2 separate regions of the Homo sapiens genome follow, and region 1 is linked to region 2. The links come from fine-mapping of genetic effects on gene expression. A gene starts in region 2. The other region holds a variant in brackets. All regions are shown on one strand. Distances are from middle to middle.

Evidence for each region. PIP is the estimated chance that this variant, and not a neighbour inherited with it, causes the effect. A credible set is the group of variants that fine-mapping cannot tell apart.
Region 1: its variant is the best candidate, but not a certain one, in a credible set for the expression of RXRA in skeletal muscle (GTEx, PIP 0.64).

What each region holds. Positions count from the first base shown.
Region 1 is chr9:134,374,838-134,379,171 of GRCh38, forward strand. All of the region lies in intron 1 of RXRA (retinoid X receptor alpha), which reads left to right. Among named protein-coding and RNA genes, the nearest start is that of MIR4669, 2.4 kb to the right of the region's middle. RefSeq lists enhancers at 2,864-3,655, 3,656-4,334. The variant T/C (reference allele first, on the strand shown) is at 2,232.
Region 2 is chr9:134,323,880-134,328,246 of GRCh38, forward strand. RXRA (retinoid X receptor alpha) reads left to right here and starts at 2,576. Exons shown (of 10, transcript NM_002957.6): 1 at 2,576-2,780. The coding sequence starts at 2,753. RefSeq lists silencers at 2,074-2,253, 2,324-2,373, 3,112-3,251 and an enhancer at 3,862-4,367.

The DNA of each region.
Region 1 (4,334 bases), 51 kb after region 2:
CGCCTGCCTGGCTAGTTCTTAAGGACTCCTGCAGCTGGCGCCGACCTGGTCCCGCTATCCTGTAGGTCTGTACTTGGCACCTGCTATGTGCCAGGCACTGGCCAGGGCCCAGGGTGTCACAATGGAGTGGCCATGGCTCTATCCTCGGTAGCCCTCAGCCTTGGCACCCAGGGTGAGGGGCTGACTGTGCCCTGCACTGCAGGGAGTGCTCTTGAGGGGGTGTGTAGGAGATGAGACCCCTACCCCAACTGAGAGACTCTGGGAAGGCTTCCTGGAGGAGGTGTTATATAAAACGGAGCCAGGCTGGAGTGAGCCAGGAAACAGGTGGAGGAGTTTCAGGCCCAGGGAACAGCATGTTCAAGGCTAGAGGCGAGAGAGCCTGACATGTTCCTGGAATGACCCAAGGCTGGGGGTGGAGAGCAGGCCGGGCCAGAGCGCGTGTCACTGTGGGGAGGTGGGAGCTGCCTGCTGTCTTCCTGGCCTGGTTCCGATGGCTGTGGCTGGCTGGGCACCCAGGAAACCTTCCTGCCTCCAGAATTGCAGTGGCTTTTGGGGTCTGAGGGGGGATGCTCTTCATGGAGGGCAGCCGAGGGCTCCCGGGTGGGCTGTGGACACTGTGAACAGTTGCTCCAGGCAGTGGGCAGGGGATTCCAGGCAGGTCCTGGCCCGGAATAAACCCTGGTTCATCTGAGGGTCAGCCCGGAGACTGTGTGTGGATGATCGGCCTGGCGGGAGAGCTGGGAGTGACGCTGGGTTGGCCGTCTAGTTTTACAGCTGGGAACACGGGCCAGGGCCAGCGGGCAGCCTGGGGTGGCCAGCAGGTGGGCCCGGGGCCGGCAGCTCTGGGCCCTGTGTGGGTTGTCAGGGCTGGAGGAGAAGCCTGAGGGCTGGGGTGAGGGCGATTTGGAAGCAGCCACTCCCTGGTGCGGAGTAGGAGGGCTGGCTTCTGGCAGGAGAGCATTCTCGGTGTGAGAGTTTGTGTTAGTGGCTGGGGGATGCTGAGATTCTGTAAAACACTCCCCCAAACAAACAACAAACACCACGTGCCCTGCGACTCGATGGCAGAGGCCACGTAGAGAAAACAAGCTGCCGGCCGCCCTCCCTCCCTCCCTCCCTCTCTCTCTCTGCTTCCCCCCCACCCCACCCCGCCAGGCTCGCAGCCTGCTGGCCTCCCTTCTCCGCATGCGGGCAGATCATGACAAGCCTTGCTATTTATTAATTTTTTAAAACAAAAATGGAATTCAGATTTGTGTTTCCTATCAAAGTTGGGATCTTCCTTAGGAAGGAAGGCACCCTCCCACCGGCCCCGCTGGTTGGGGCGGAAGAAGGCGGCCCCTCTGCAGGCGCAGCCAGGCCTTCTTGTGGAGGCCCAGAGGGGCACCCTCAGCCGCGGGGCCTGCCCATGCCAGCTGTCGCACCTCGCAGTGCCCAGGGTTGTGGGGGTCTAGGAGCTTCGGTGCCTGGCAGGGTGCGTGTTTATGCATGTGTGTGTGCCTCGTGCTCTGATCTGTGCGTGTGCCTGTGTGCCCCATCCACACTGCTCCCGTCTATGCTGTCTCCATTCCTTCGCGGGGGCAGAGGTCCCTCCAGTGGCCCAACCACAGCCCCCACTGCTGCCCTGTCCTACCGTTTCTTCTCTCTCCTCCCCTGCCGCCCGCCACACTCTGCTCAGGCAGCCCTGGGCTCATGACTTGACAGCCTGGCCAGCTGCGTGGCCTCGGCCAGGGCGACCTTTGTGTGTTGGAGCCTTGCCGCGTTCTCTGTCTATAGAAGGTGATGCTTAGGGAGCTCTCAGAGAACCAGTGAGACCTGTGCTGGCTGGTGCATCTCGGGTGCTCAGCGCGTGGGCAGTACCCTCCCTGGCTGTGCTCCTGGGGGAAGCTGGGCACTGGGCATGGAAATGAAAGCGTGGTAGAGAGGGACCTCCTGGCTCCTTGCAGCTGAGACCAGCCAGGGGCGCAGCCCTAGGGATCTGGCTGGGCCTGCAGGCTGCAGGGTCTCAGGAGGGAGGGAAGGGGCATGGTGAGGGCACCTTGGGCGTCGAGTCTCTGAGGGGGTGCAGGAAGCATTTCCTTACCTGTGGCGGGCAGTCGCTGGGCTGACCTCTGGGCCACGTGTTCACTGGCTGAGTGTGCGATTGTGTGCCCTGGCCCTGTGCCACGCCCACTGTCCTTGACCCGTCAGCCGGGTTTTCCTGGCAGCCCTGTGACTGCTGGCCTAGGGGCCGACCC[T/C]GTGAGGGGCTGGCACTGGGAATGGGGACCTGGCCAGTCTTGCTCAGCCTTTGGGGACGGAGCCCCAAGCTCGCTGCATCCGTGCTGGGCACTGACAGTACCCATTCTCACCCTGTCTGTGCTCCGCTTTCATTTCTGGGGGCCTCTGGCAGTGTTGGGGTTACTGATCTCCGCCAGCCCCAGGGGTGTTGGGTCCTTGATGGCGAGCTGGCTGCCCTCCCTGGGCCACATGCTGTCCCACATGGAAGGCGATGGCGTTGTCCCCATCACTGCCTGACCAAGGGCAGGTGGCCCAGAGCATGGGAGGCCTGGAGCATGGGAGGCCCAGAGCATGGGAGGGGTCCCCAGTGTCCAGCACAGTTGTGGGGCTGGGCCCTCCTTAGAACTCAGCCCTGCGTGTGCTGGCATCACCGCTCGGGAAGGCATGCGTGTCCTTCCTGCACAGCTGGGTGAAGTCTCCGTGTGTGTGTGCCCTGCAGCCAGCACACCCACACCCCCAGCTCCCGCGACCCCTCGGAGATATCCGTTTTCCCAACTTCCCTCTCCGGGACCACTTCTGTCTCTTGTTGGCCTTTATGAAAACAGAGGTCAGTTTGGATGTGGGGGTCAGGGAGGAGCACTCTACTCTTGCAGAGATGTAACATTTTTATTCTGACTTCCAGCTGCTGCCCGATTTCCACCGTCTGTGTGTGCGTTTTGATCTGTCATACCCTCGTGCTCTGCAGACCAGCTTCTGTCCCCAGGAAGCCATCTCGCTGCCCCCCTCCACACCCACCTCCATCAGAACCAGTATGGGGGACGTTGCGTGAGCTGATGGGGTGCTGAGTGGGGACCCTCCTGCTCTGCCCCCCTTGGAGGGGCTGTGAGAATCCAGGTGTGTGCGGAAGGGCCGAGCTGGGGCAGGTTATGTGCAGCTCAGCGTCGGCCACACCCAGGCCTGGCCCCTGTGCTGTCCTCCTGGAGTGGTGGCCATGGGGGCACAGTGGTGCCCTGGGTGGCGAGCAGGTTTCACGATGACTGTGGCTGGCGACGAGGAGCTAGCTCGGCAGGAAGCTGGCAGCCACCCAGGGTTCTGGGCAGGGCCGGGGCAGAGGGCACAGGCAAGGCACAGAGCTCTGGAAGTGCCAGGCCACCCCGGCTGCTTCCTGGGAGATGAGTCCCTGGCTGGATGCTGTCATCCTAGGCAGAGAGGCGAGTTCTCTGTCTGCTGGGTCAGCGCTGGGGAGCCAGGCCGGTGCTGGTGTTGCTGCCTTGCTGCCGCCACCTGAAGGCGTGTGTGCCGGCCAGCGCCTGTGTGCGGGGTCCTTACCACTGTGTGGTTTAACCCTTGCCACCCAAGAGGGCTGTGGCCATCTGCCTCCAGAACGCAGCTGGTGAACAGAGCTGGCCTGGTCCCGAAGGGTCCTGTGGCCTGGAGGCAAATGTGGATGCTTGTTGGTTTATTTGCTTAGAGGCAGGGTCCTGGGTGCCGAGGGAATAGGCTGTGGCCCCTGTCACCTGTCCCCAAGGAGCAGTACCTGGGGAAGGTACCGAAGTGGTGGCCCTCCCTGCCCCTGCCAGCCTCAGGACTGTGGCCATTAGGCTGGGTCGGCCGCTCAGAGTCACAGGAGGGGTGGGTAGGGAGCTCTGACCCTGGGCAGCGCGTGCCGTCCGGTTGCTCCCAAAGGCAGCCTGGAGTTGGGGTTTGCCGAGGGAGGCTGCCCCCGCAGACCCCAGGCTGTGAAGCACCCCAGCCTTGTAGGGGTGCCTGCAGGAGTCCCGGCAGCTTCAGGAGCGGCCTCTGGAGCCTGGAGGGCAGGAGCCAGACCATCCTTGGCTGTGACTTTGTTTTGTTTCCTCAAGTCAGATTGTCCTGCTTCATCCTGTGCCCGGAAGAGAGGTCCTGCTGCTGTCCTCGGGTGGGAACACACGTCTCTTGCCTTCCCTCCTTGAGGGTGGGGGTGGACCTCAGCCGCCACCCATTTGTCAGTCAGCAAATGCAGCTCCTGCTGGGTCACTTGCCTGCCAGCTGAGCTCCTGGGATGCAGCCCAGCCTGTGGGGCCACCCGGCTCCTCCAGCCTTATAGCTCCTCCCCACCACACCTCCTCTGCACAGCAGGACCC
Region 2 (4,367 bases):
TCCGGACTCCGTGCGCTCTCCACGTGGTCTCTAGAGCAGGGGATGACGCCTTCCGGTGTTTCTTAGGAACAGAGGGCCCTTCTGGAACCTTCAGCCTTCCCAGGAGGAACCCACATGGAAATCTGTCTGCATGTGCCTCCCCGACTCCAGGCACCAACAGCTCCTGAGTCTTGAGTTTTCAGGGACAAGGAGTGAGATGGGGGTGGGGTGGAGAGTCCAGCATGCCACACCGCCCACTATTGGGAGGTGACCTCAGACACTTCAGCCCAGCCTTCCCACCATTGCCTGGCGTGTCCTGACCTGCCGTCCGCGGCCTGCTGCTCCTTCTCTCTGCAGGCCGCTGCTCAGCCGGCCCTGCTGCCTGGGCGGCCACTGCCTGATGGAACCTCCCTGCTCCAAAACCTGACTCAAGAACCAGTGATCCCAAAAGCTGCCTGAGCCCTTTGGCTGGATAGAGCCTTGCTCTCCCTGCACTGAGCATAGGCGAACGGCCTGCCTAATTCAGCGTCATTTCATCATCATCATCATCACAATAACTGTCACACCGAGCTCGTCCTCCCGAGCGCAGACTCTCCATATTATCTCACTTAGTCATCTCAGTGACTCAGTGAGGAGGGAGTGGTTGTTCCCACTTTACAGATGAGAAAACTGAGATACAAGGAGGGAAGTGACCCAGCTAGGCCACACGGTTGGTAGGAGGTGGACCTGCAATCTGGCCCAGGCCTTGTCTATCTGGGACTCCCCCCCAACCCCCCAACCTGAGTACAGTCAGGAGGGGCCCAAGCAGTCACAGAGACAGGCCTGGAACGCGGCGGGCACATGGCACTTTTGCAGTGTATGTTGGTGCTTACGGGGGCTCTTTCTCAGTCCTATCCTTTGTTTGCCGCCCCCCTCCCTGGCAGGAGGAACTCAGTTTTAGAAGGGCAGTGGGTTGGGCCGGCATGCCATGTGCAGTGGGGAAGTGGGTCTGTTGTGGCTGTAACCACAGTGGGTGAGGACCAGGTGTCAACAGTGGCCCTCATCCCGGAGGGAGTGGGGCAGGCTGCCTGTTGGACAGGGTGTGTGAATAGGGGGACGGGGTGGCCTTTGGTAGGGGCCCAGGGGTCAGTGAAGAGGGGGAGGGGGAGAGGGCTGCCTTGGGCTCTGGCTGTGCTGGGGGTGGGCTGCCCAACCAGGGCACTTCTGTCCCAAGTGGAACCAAGACCTCCCACCGGAACAGGCCACCGGAGCCCTCGTGGAACCCAGCTCCGGGTGGCCCGACTTGAGGGGCACCCAGGCAGCAGGACACCTCTCTGGTCTCGGGCTGTTATCTTTGGGCCGTGTCATGGCTGTCCACACGCGGTCATCACCTCCTCACCTCCCTCCCCATTAGCGTCCCCTGACCCGGGCCACCACGCGCAGCCTGCGTGAATGGTCAGTCCCTGTGCCTCGCAGCCCGGGCCCTTAGGTCTAGGTGGTCAGCAAGCTCGCGGTGGGGGTGCGGAGGGAGGGCGCGGCGGGGCGCCTCGGCGCCTGCTCAGGAAGGCTGGGCTTGGCGGCGCGCAGGTAGCTCACACCCAAATCCGAATTCCAGCCGCCCGAGACGGCGGGCGGCGGGCGGCGCGCGGCGGAGGCGGCCCGAGCTGTCCCGGGGCAGGAGTGCTTCCTTTCGTTTTCAAACAAATCGTGAATTTAAAAGTCAGGCAGAGAACTACCCAGGGTATAAAAATAGCCACCGGCCACAAAGTCTGTGTCCAACTCCGGGCAGCGCCTGCCCAGCCTGGTGCCTTTGAAGAGGGGTCCCAGGAGTGCGGGTCGATGAGGAGGCGAAGCGCGCACCCCTCCTCGTTCCCGGTGGGCTCGTGGGTCTCTCCGTGGGGGTAGGGCGTGAAAGTGTGGGGTGGACCGGGGGTAGCGTCCGGAAGACGAAACCTTCCCCGGACGAGGAGCTTGTCCTCTGCCGTTGGGGCACATCGCCACTCCCGGGCCTCAGTTTCCCCACGTGTCCGCCGCGGCGGGGTGCGAGGTATGGGTGCCGCGGCCATCCCGCCCGGCTCTGCGCTTGCCTGGCCCGGGCCGGGGTCCCCTCGCGGCCACCGCCCGGCCGCTTTGTGTGGCCGCGCAGACAATGGCCCGGCCGCTGGGCTCCCGGCCCGGCTCTCCGCCTCCTCCGGGCCCTTGCGCGCAAGTGTGTGTGTGCGCGAGTGTGTGGCGGGCCCGGGGAGGGAGTTCTGCTCCCGCCCCCGCCCCCGCCCCGCTCCCTCTGCGCCCCGCCCCCTCCCACGCCGCCTCCTCGCGGCTCCCGGGAACCCCTGGCGGAGGCGAACTCGCAAGTTTGCACGGCGCTCTCAACTCGGCGGCCGGGCGGGCGGCGATCGCGGGGCGGCGGCGGCGGAGGGGGGCGCGCTCCGGGCGGGGCTGGGCGGGCGGGGCGCGGGCCGAGCGGTGGCGGCGGCGCTGCGCCGAGTCAGCGCCCGTCGCGGGCCCCCCGCCACCCCCCCGCCGGCGCCGCAGCGCCGCGGTCGGAGCGGGGCGCGGGCGCGCGGCGGCGGGGGCGCGGGCCGGGCGCGCGCGGCGGCGGCGCGCAGACACAAGTAGTTTACATTGTTGGGCGACTTTTGCAACAACTCGCCGCGCCGCGGCCTCCGCGCGCCGCCGCCGCCACCGCAGCCGCCGGCTCCCCGCCGCCCGGGCCCGGGCCGGCCGCGCCGGGGGCCGCCGCGCCCGCCGCCCGCTGCCTGCGCCGCCGGCCGGGCATGAGTTAGTCGCAGACATGGACACCAAACATTTCCTGCCGCTCGGTGAGTGCTCGCCGGGCCGGGCGGGGACGGGGCCGGGGGCCGGGGGCCGGCGGGCGGGAGGGGGCCGGGGGCGCGTTGGCGGCGCGCGCGGGGGGTCGCCGGCCCGGGCCCCGCTCGGACCCCTCGCCGACCTTCGCGTGAGTTCGGGCGCCGGGCCCGGGGAGGGTCGACCCGGGGCAACTTTTCGCGGGGCCGGGGCGGGGCTGGGCAGCGGGCGGGCGGCGGGGCCGGGGGGCGGGTGGCAGGTTCGCCCGGGACGAGGAGGGGTCTCCCGCTCACCGGCGGCCGCCTGCGCCCCGGCGCCCAGCTGCAGCCGCGCCGCACAGGAACCCGGCCGGAGCGGGAGGAGCAACTTCTGCGCTCCGCGGCTCCGGCCTCCCTGGCCTGGGGACCGGGACGGCGCGCTGGGCCCCGAGCGGCCTCTGCGCCGCCCGCCCGTCGGGCTGCGGCTTCTAGCAGGCCGCTGGCCCTTGGGTGTGTGTCCGCCCAGGAAACAGACTGGGACCCTGTTATCCCCAAAGCAGCCCACGCCCGGGTGGGCAGGGTCCCCCGGGGCTGTATGAACAGAACGTCAGACCTGGGAAGGCCCCATTCCAGAAATGGGGCCCCTCACTCTGGCACCCCCGGGTGTTCTCCCAGGCTGGCTCTCCATTTGTGAGCAGGACAGCGCAGAGGCGCGTAGGGTCAGTTTCCCTCCTCCTCCTGCCATCCCGCCCGGTAGCTTCCTATCCCAGACTGCCCGCCAACTCCAGGCCCAGACCTACCGAGAAGGGGGAGAGGGCATGGCTGGGGCCCCCACCCATTGCCCTCCCAAGGGTTTGGAAGCTAGTGAGAAGGGGGAGACTTTATAAATTAGCTCCGGGAAGGATATTAATTTGGTGGTGGGACGGCAGCCAGGCTGTCAGGCCGGGTGAAGGATTTGTGCTGAATGGAAATCGAAACAGCTGATTATGAATGAAGCCCCCGCCATCCGTAGCCCCTCCTGCCCACCCTCCCTGCAGCCTGGGGTGCAGCTTGGCCACCCCAGGAGGTGCTCAGAAGCCAATGTAGCTGCAGGGATGTTTAGTGAGATGGGGCATCAAGGGGAGCCAGCATGGACCTAGCCCCTCCTGGATGTGAGGGTGAGAGTCTGAGTACCTCTGCTACTCACAGGCAGGTGTGCTGCCCCGTGACCGGGGCAGGCGGTGGGTTCCAGGTTTGTCAGACCTAACGCTTACTCCCTGCCTCTGTCATGATGGAGTGGTGGGCTCGAGGCCTTGAATGAGCTCCAGGGCTCAGCCTCCAGGGGTGGGCGCTCATGCCCATTTTGCAGATGAGAAAACTGGCTGGGAGAGGCTGAGCCCCCAGGATACAAGGTGGTGGATTTGGGATTAGCACCCCCAGCTCGTGGTACTGCTGAGTGTGAGGCAGGAGGGAATGCTGCGCTGTCTGTGACCGAGTGCAGTGTGGAGTGGGCTGGGGCTGCCTTTCCCTGTTAAAGCTTTGCACTCACACATGTGCACACACACATCCACACACACAGAGCTAGGCTCTCCCAGACGATTCCTCTGGAACAAGAATGCTCAGCTCAGTGTCTGGCCCCTGGAC